Homo sapiens: one gene and its partner. The protein of the gene in region 1 binds, or shares a complex with, the protein of each later gene. Each region holds a gene or a part of one and is shown on either strand. Other genes may lie near its edges. A codon is read from its position in the direction of its gene.

Region 1 (3,746 bases):
TCCACATCCTTGCCAACATTTCTCTCTCACACACACACACACACACAAATTTGTAGCCATCCTAGTAGGTGTGAAGTGGTGTTTCATTGTGGTATTGATTTGCAAATTTCCCTATTGACATTTTCCAATGGTGTTGAGTGACTTTTTTTTTTTTTTTTTTGACGACGTCTCGCTCTGTTGCCCAGGCTGGAGTGCAGTGGTGCGATCTCAGCTCACTGCAAACTCTGCCTCCCAGGTTCAAGCAATTCTCCTGTCTCAGCCTCCCAAGTAGTAGCTGGGACTGCAGATGCATGCCACCACGCCTGACTAATTTTTGCATTTTTAGAAAATATGGGGTTTCACCATATTCGTATTGGTTAGACTGGTCTCAAACTTCCGGCCTCAGGTGATCCACCCACCTCGGCCTCCCAAGGTGCTGGGATTACAGGTGTGAGTCACTCCCCAGCCTTGAGTATCTTTTATGTGCTTTTTGGCACTTTATGTATATTTTTTGGAGAAATGTCTATTTAAATCCTTTGCCCATGCTTTAATTGTTTGTCTTTTTGTTGTTGTAGTTAGGATATGCTCTGGATAACAACCCTTTATCAGATATAGAATTTGCAAATATTTTCTCCCATTCTGTAGACTGTCTTCACTTTTTTTTTTGAGACAGAGTCTTGTTCTGTCACCCAGGCTGGAGTGCAGTGGTGCGATCTAGGCTCACTGCAACCTCTGCCTCCCAGGTTCAAGCAATTCTCCTGCCTCAGCCTCCGAGTAGCTGGGATTAAAGCATGCGCCACCATGCCTGGCTAATTTTTGTATTTTTAGTAGAGATGGAATTTCACCACATTGGTCAGGCTGGTCTCAAACTCCTGACCTCATGATCCGCCCACCTCAGCCTCCCGAAGTGCTGGGATTACAGGCGTGAGCCACCACGCCTGGCCTGTCTTCATTTTATTAATACTGTCTTTTGATACACAAATGTTCATTCCGATGAAGCCCAATTTATCTAATTTTTCTTTGATTGCTGGTGATTTTGGTGTCATTATCTAAGAATCCATTGCCAAGTTTTACTTGGTTTTGATCTCTAGAAGACTGCCATCATACTGAAGGTAATCTTCTGAAACTTGCGGTTTTCTTTCAAAAATTATGTTTATAAGATGATCCATGTTCTTGCAGAGTTTATTCATTTTATGCTGTATAATATTCCATTATATCCACATACAATGCAGTATTGACCCTTCCTCCTGTTGATGGGCATTTGTCTTGTTTCTAGTTACTTTGCTATTATATCAGTGTCACCATGATTATCCAAAAGTAATTCTTTTGTACACTCTAATTTAAGAACAACTAACCCTTTTTAATGAATAAATCAACCTTGTATTGAGTTGCTACTAAGTTTCAGTTGACTAGTACCTGGGATACACACAGGTGCAGACATTTGACTGAGACATATTGATTTTTCTCATCTGCCTATTTAGGCTAATCACCAGACTATAAAACCATGAGAACCACTGCCATTGAGTATAGTCTGTGTCAGTCTACACTATAGCTTTAACTAGTTGTGTGATTTCTTGCAAAGAGCAATCAGAGAAGACACAATAAACACATTTACTGATTTCAGGCTGGAGAGCTTTTAAGCAATAGGGAGATGGCCACACACAAGGTGGAGAAAATTACTGTGAAAAGGAAGTACTTTCTTTAGAGCCCCACCTAAGCTAGGCTGCAGAAATGTCTACAATGGGTTTGAAAAAACTCAAAATGAGCCTTTCTGCAGTGTGAAAATCCTCCAAGATAAAGAGACAGATTGATGGTTCCTGCCGCCGCCCTGTCCTGCCCAGTTGCTGATTTCAGGAAATACTTTGGCAGGTTTGTGGGTCATAGAGTTGCCAGGTTTCTTGGGATTTGTAATAGAACATCACAAGAAAATCAAGTGTGAAGCAAGAGCTCAACTCTTAACAGGGGTATTGTTTGTGGTTTTGTTACTGGAAAAGATAGTGACCTTACCAGGGCCAAAGTTTGTAGACACAGGAATTACGAAATGGAGAAGGGGGAGAAGTGAGCTAGTGGCAGCATAAAAAGACCAGCAGATGCCCCACAGCACTGCTCTTCCAGAGGCAAGACCAACCAAGATGAGGTGGGTCCACAGCTTTCCCTCCTGCCTTTCCTCTGGTTCTTTATTTCAGTCTTTTTTGCATACATCGGTAGAGATGCAGAAATAGAACAAAGAAACGGGCAAATGGGCTAAATTATAGTGAACCAAAGGGCTTAGTGTGTTAAATCTTCTCCTTTTCTGCATCCATAGAAGACAGTGCTGCTGTCTTTCCCAGGAGATAAGATTTACTCTCAGGAGTGTCTTTTTCCTTCAGGTTACATTTTTGACTTTATAGGGTATGTCATCAGCTCCCGTGGTAGGCTTCCTGGCATCCTGAGTATATTTATTAGCAGATATTTTCCTCTTTAAAAATGTACAATAAGGAAGACTAATAGTAACACATTTGAATGACACAATTAATTGACTAGTACCTGGGATACACACTAATACCTGGGATACATCTAATTAAGGCACTTAGATCTTATAAAAATAAACACTTTTTGAAATGTTGAAATAATAAGACTAGAAACTTTTTTTTTTTTTGAGATGGAGTCTCGCTTTGTCACCAGGCTGCAGTGCAGTGGCATGATCTCGGCTCACTGCAACCTCCACCTCCCAGGTTCAAGTGATTCTCCTGCCTCAGCCTCCCAGGTAGCTGGGACTACAGGCGTGCGCCACTATGCCCACCTAATTTTTGTATTTTTAGTAGAGACGGGCTTTCACCATGTTGGCCAGGATGACCTCGATCTCTTGACCTCGTGATCTGCCTGCCTTGGCCTCCCAAAGTGCTGGGATTACAGGCATGAGCCACCGTGTCTGGCCTAGAAACTATTTTAATAGAAGCAAGTAGTGCCCGAATGGTTGGCATTTGTTAGTGAGATGGTGAACTGGCAGACGGCACCTGTGGGTCAATGCCCATGGCCACCGTCCTGCTTTTGGACACCAGTTCTCTTCCAGGTAACCTTCTGGCATTTTGGGGTTTCAGATACCATTTCCTAAAGGTGAATTATTATAAAATACTAGAAATACCCACGTGTTTAAAATTATATATTTAAGGAACCTTTTATTACGGAAAATATCAAGAAGTAGAGGAATAGCACAGTAAGCCCAAAGTTCCCATCTCTGAGTTATCTACATTTTATTACCACTATCTTTGCGGTGTCTGAGGGAGGTTTCTCTTTCCTGGAGGGCTCCTGTATTATTGCCAATGTACTTTCCTGAATGCAGCCAGAAACTGAGCCCACCCCTCCACCTATGTGCCTTTCTATCCCTCTCTGAAGCTTCTGCAGAATTCCCAGCAGGACAGGGCTTGCTGGAAGCTTGGTATGCTCAGAAGCTGCTAAAGTGTGTATGGGCAGGTGTGGGGGCAATTTCTTGGTCCTAGCACTTCCATATATCGACTTTCTTTTCTGGCTGCTAAGTGGGAGGAGTGTGTGTGTATGCATGTGTGTGTGTGTGTGTGTACATGCATGTGTGTGTGGATGCATGCATGTGCTGTGAAGCAGGGAGACTAGCTTTCCACTCCTCCTTGTCTTCTCTCTGCAGTGCCCTGGGAGCTGTCATTGCCCTCCTGCTCTGGGGACAGCTTTTTGCAGTGGACTCAGGCAATGATGTCACGGATATCGCAGGTCAGTCTTTGGTTGGGTAGGAGTGTGCATCCCACTCTGACCCT
Region 2 (3,594 bases), about 72 Mb from region 1:
ATTGCACTCCAGCCTGGGCAACAAGAGCAAAACTCCGTCTCAAAAAATAAATAAATAAATAAATAAATAAACTAAAATCTATCCATGCTTTCACACACACACACACACACACACACACACACCCTTTTTTGTGTTACTTAAAGTAGGAGAGTGTCTCTCTTTCCTGTCTCCTCACACCCACCCCCAGAAGAGACCAAAATGAAGGGTTTGGAACTCAGCCCATGGGCCCCATCCCATGCTGAGGGAACACAGCTACATCTACAACTACTGCCACAGGCTCTCTTTTTGGACAAAAATACCATCATACTGTAGATACCTGTGTACAACTTCCTATTCTCAGTGAAGTGTCTCCCCTGCATCCCTTTCAGCCAGTTCATTCAGCTCTGCGCCATTCCACAGTCTCACTGATTATTACTATGTTTCCATCATGATCCCCCCAAAAAATCATGACTTTATTTTTTTATTTTTATTATTATTATTTTTTTTTTTTTTTTTGTGACGGAGTCTCGCTCTGTCACCCAGGCTGGAGTGCAGTGGCACAATCTCGGCTCACTGCAAGCTCCACCTCGCAGGTTCACGCCATTCTCCTCCCTCAGCCTCCCGAGTAGCTGAGTAGCTGGGACTACAGGCGCCCCCCACTACGCCTGGCTAATTTTTTCTATTTTTAATAGAGACAGAGTTTCACTGCATTAGCGAGGATGGTCTCGATCTCCTGACCTCGCATCTGCCCGCCTCAGCCTCCCAATGTGCTGGGATTACAGGCGTGAGCCACCGCGCCCGGCCTTATGTATTTATTTTTTTGAGACAGAGTCTCGCTGTGTCGTCAGGCTAGAGTGCTGTGGCACGATCTCGGCTCACTGCAACCTCCAACTCCCTGGTTCAAAGGATTCTCCAGCCTCCACCTCCCGAGTAGCTGGGATTACAGGCGTGCACCACCACACCCAGCTAATTTTTGTATTTTTAGTAGAGACGGGGTTTCTCCATGTTGGTCAGCCTGGTCTCGAACTCCCGACCTCAGCTGATCCACCCGCCTTGGCCTCCCAAAGTGCTGGGATTACAGGCGTGAGCCACCGAGCCTGGCCAAACCATCACTTTTCATGAGCAGGGATGCACCCACTGGCACTCCTGCACCTCCCACCCTCCCCCTCGCCAAGTCCACCCCTTCCTTCCTCACCCCACATCCCCTCACCTACATTCTGCAACCACAGGGGCCTTCTCTCCCCTGTCCTTTCCCTACCCAGAGCCAAGTTTGTTTATCTGTTTACAACCAGTATTTACCTAGCAAGTCTTCCATCAGATAGCATTTGGAGAGCTGGGGGTGTCACAGTGAACCACGACCTCTAGGCCAGTGGGAGAGTCAGTCACACAAACTGTGAGTCCATGACTTGGGGCTTAGCCAGCACCCACCACCCCACGCGCCACCCCACAACCCCGGGTAGAGGAGTCTGAATCTGGAGCCGCCCCCAGCCCAGCCCCGTGCTTTTTGCGTCCTGGTGTTTGTTCCTTCCCGGTGCCTGTCACTCAAGCACACTAGTGACTATCGCCAGAGGGAAAGGGAGCTGCAGGAAGCGAGGCTGGAGAGCAGGAGGGGCTCTGCGCAGAAATTCTTTTGAGTTCCTATGGGCCAGGGCGTCCGGGTGCGCGCATTCCTCTCCGCCCCAGGATTGGGCGAAGCCCTCCGGCTCGCACTCGCTCGCCCGTGTGTTCCCCGATCCCGCTGGAGTCGATGCGCGTCCAGCGCGTGCCAGGCCGGGGCGGGGGTGCGGGCTGACTTTCTCCCTCGCTAGGGACGCTCCGGCGCCCGAAAGGAAAGGGTGGCGCTGCGCTCCGGGGTGCACGAGCCGACAGCGCCCGACCCCAACGGGCCGGCCCCGCCAGCGCCGCTACCGCCCTGCCCCCGGGCGAGCGGGATGGGCGGGAGTGGAGTGGCGGGTGGAGGGTGGAGACGTCCTGGCCCCCGCCCCGCGTGCACCCCCAGGGGAGGCCGAGCCCGCCGCCCGGCCCCGCGCAGGCCCCGCCCGGGACTCCCCTGCGGTCCAGGCCGCGCCCCGGGCTCCGCGCCAGCCAATGAGCGCCGCCCGGCCGGGCGTGCCCCCGCGCCCCAAGCATAAACCCTGGCGCGCTCGCGGGCCGGCACTCTTCTGGTCCCCACAGACTCAGAGAGAACCCACCATGGTGCTGTCTCCTGCCGACAAGACCAACGTCAAGGCCGCCTGGGGTAAGGTCGGCGCGCACGCTGGCGAGTATGGTGCGGAGGCCCTGGAGAGGTGAGGCTCCCTCCCCTGCTCCGACCCGGGCTCCTCGCCCGCCCGGACCCACAGGCCACCCTCAACCGTCCTGGCCCCGGACCCAAACCCCACCCCTCACTCTGCTTCTCCCCGCAGGATGTTCCTGTCCTTCCCCACCACCAAGACCTACTTCCCGCACTTCGACCTGAGCCACGGCTCTGCCCAGGTTAAGGGCCACGGCAAGAAGGTGGCCGACGCGCTGACCAACGCCGTGGCGCACGTGGACGACATGCCCAACGCGCTGTCCGCCCTGAGCGACCTGCACGCGCACAAGCTTCGGGTGGACCCGGTCAACTTCAAGGTGAGCGGCGGGCCGGGAGCGATCTGGGTCGAGGGGCGAGATGGCGCCTTCCTCTCAGGGCAGAGGATCACGCGGGTTGCGGGAGGTGTAGCGCAGGCGGCGGCTGCGGGCCTGGGCCGCACTGACCCTCTTCTCTGCACAGCTCCTAAGCCACTGCCTGCTGGTGACCCTGGCCGCCCACCTCCCCGCCGAGTTCACCCCTGCGGTGCACGCCTCCCTGGACAAGTTCCTGGCTTCTGTGAGCACCGTGCTGACCTCCAAATACCGTTAAGCTGGAGCCTCGGTAGCCGTTCCTCCTGCCCGCTGGGCCTCCCAACGGGCCCTCCTCCCCTCCTTGCACCGGCCCTTCCTGGTCTTTGAATAAAGTCTGAGTGGGCAGCAGCCTGTGTGTGCCTGGGTTCTCTCTATCCCGGAATGTGCCAACAATGGAGGTGTTTACCTGTCTCAGACCAAGGACCTCTCTGCAGCTGCATGGGGCTGGGGAGGGAGAACTGCAGGGAGTATGGGAGGGGAAGCTGAGGTGGGCCTGCTCAAGAGAAGGTGCTGAACCATCCCCTGTCCTGAGAGGTGCCAGGCCTGCAGGCAGTGGCTCAGAAGCTGGGGAGGAGAGAGGCATCCAGGGTTCTACTCAGGGAGTCCCAGCATCGCCACCCTCCTTTGAAATCTCCCTGGTTGAACCCAGTTAACATACGCTCTCCATCAAAACAAAACGAAACAAAACAAACTAGCAAAATAGGCTGTCCCCAGTGCAAGTGCAGGTGCCAGAACATTTCTCTCATTCCCACCCCTTCCTGCCAGAGGGTAGGTGGCTGGAGTGAGGGTGCTGGCCCTACTCACACTTCCTGTGTCACGGTGACCCTCTGAGAGCAGCCCAGTCAGTGGGGAAGGAGGAAGGGGCTGGGATGCTCACAGCCGGCAGCCCACACCTGGGGAGACTCTTCAGCAGAGCACCTTGCGGCCTTACTCCTGCACGTCTCCTGCAGTTTGTAAGGTGCATTCAGAACT

What was found.
Region 2: the proteins of HP (region 1) and HBA2 are in contact, whole or in part, in a crystal structure (PDB 5HU6), measured with the Homo sapiens proteins. Residues at the interface, in NP_005134.1 of Homo sapiens: His183, Leu185, Lys202, Phe205, Leu206, Asn207, His208, Arg286, Ala288, Asn289, Phe290, Lys291, Ser326, Pro327, Val328, Gly329, Val330, Met343, Gln347, Tyr352, Lys379, Cys381, Ala382, Val383, Glu385; in NP_000508.1 of Homo sapiens: Val2 (codon at 2,176), Pro78 (codon at 2,521), Arg93 (codon at 2,566), Asp95 (codon at 2,572), Pro96 (codon at 2,575), Val97 (codon at 2,578), Lys100 (codon at 2,587), Lys128 (codon at 2,813), Ala131 (codon at 2,822), Ser132 (codon at 2,825), Ser134 (codon at 2,831), Thr135 (codon at 2,834), Val136 (codon at 2,837), Thr138 (codon at 2,843), Ser139 (codon at 2,846), Lys140 (codon at 2,849), Tyr141 (codon at 2,852), Arg142 (codon at 2,855).

Annotation. Positions count from the first base shown.
Region 1 is NC_000016.10:72,052,542-72,056,287, forward strand, and holds the start of HP (haptoglobin isoform 1 preproprotein), read left to right. Parts: upstream 1-1,963; 5' UTR 1,964-2,111; coding exon 2,112-2,116; intron 2,117-3,619; coding exon 3,620-3,702; intron 3,703-3,746. UniProt on the Homo sapiens protein: As a result of hemolysis, hemoglobin is found to accumulate in the kidney and is secreted in the urine. Haptoglobin captures, and combines with free plasma hemoglobin to allow hepatic recycling of heme iron and to prevent kidney damage.
Region 2 is NC_000016.10:170,741-174,334, forward strand, and holds HBA2 (hemoglobin subunit alpha), read left to right. Parts: upstream 1-2,135; 5' UTR 2,136-2,172; coding exon 2,173-2,267; intron 2,268-2,384; coding exon 2,385-2,589; intron 2,590-2,731; coding exon 2,732-2,860; 3' UTR 2,861-2,970; downstream 2,971-3,594. UniProt on the Homo sapiens protein: Involved in oxygen transport from the lung to the various peripheral tissues.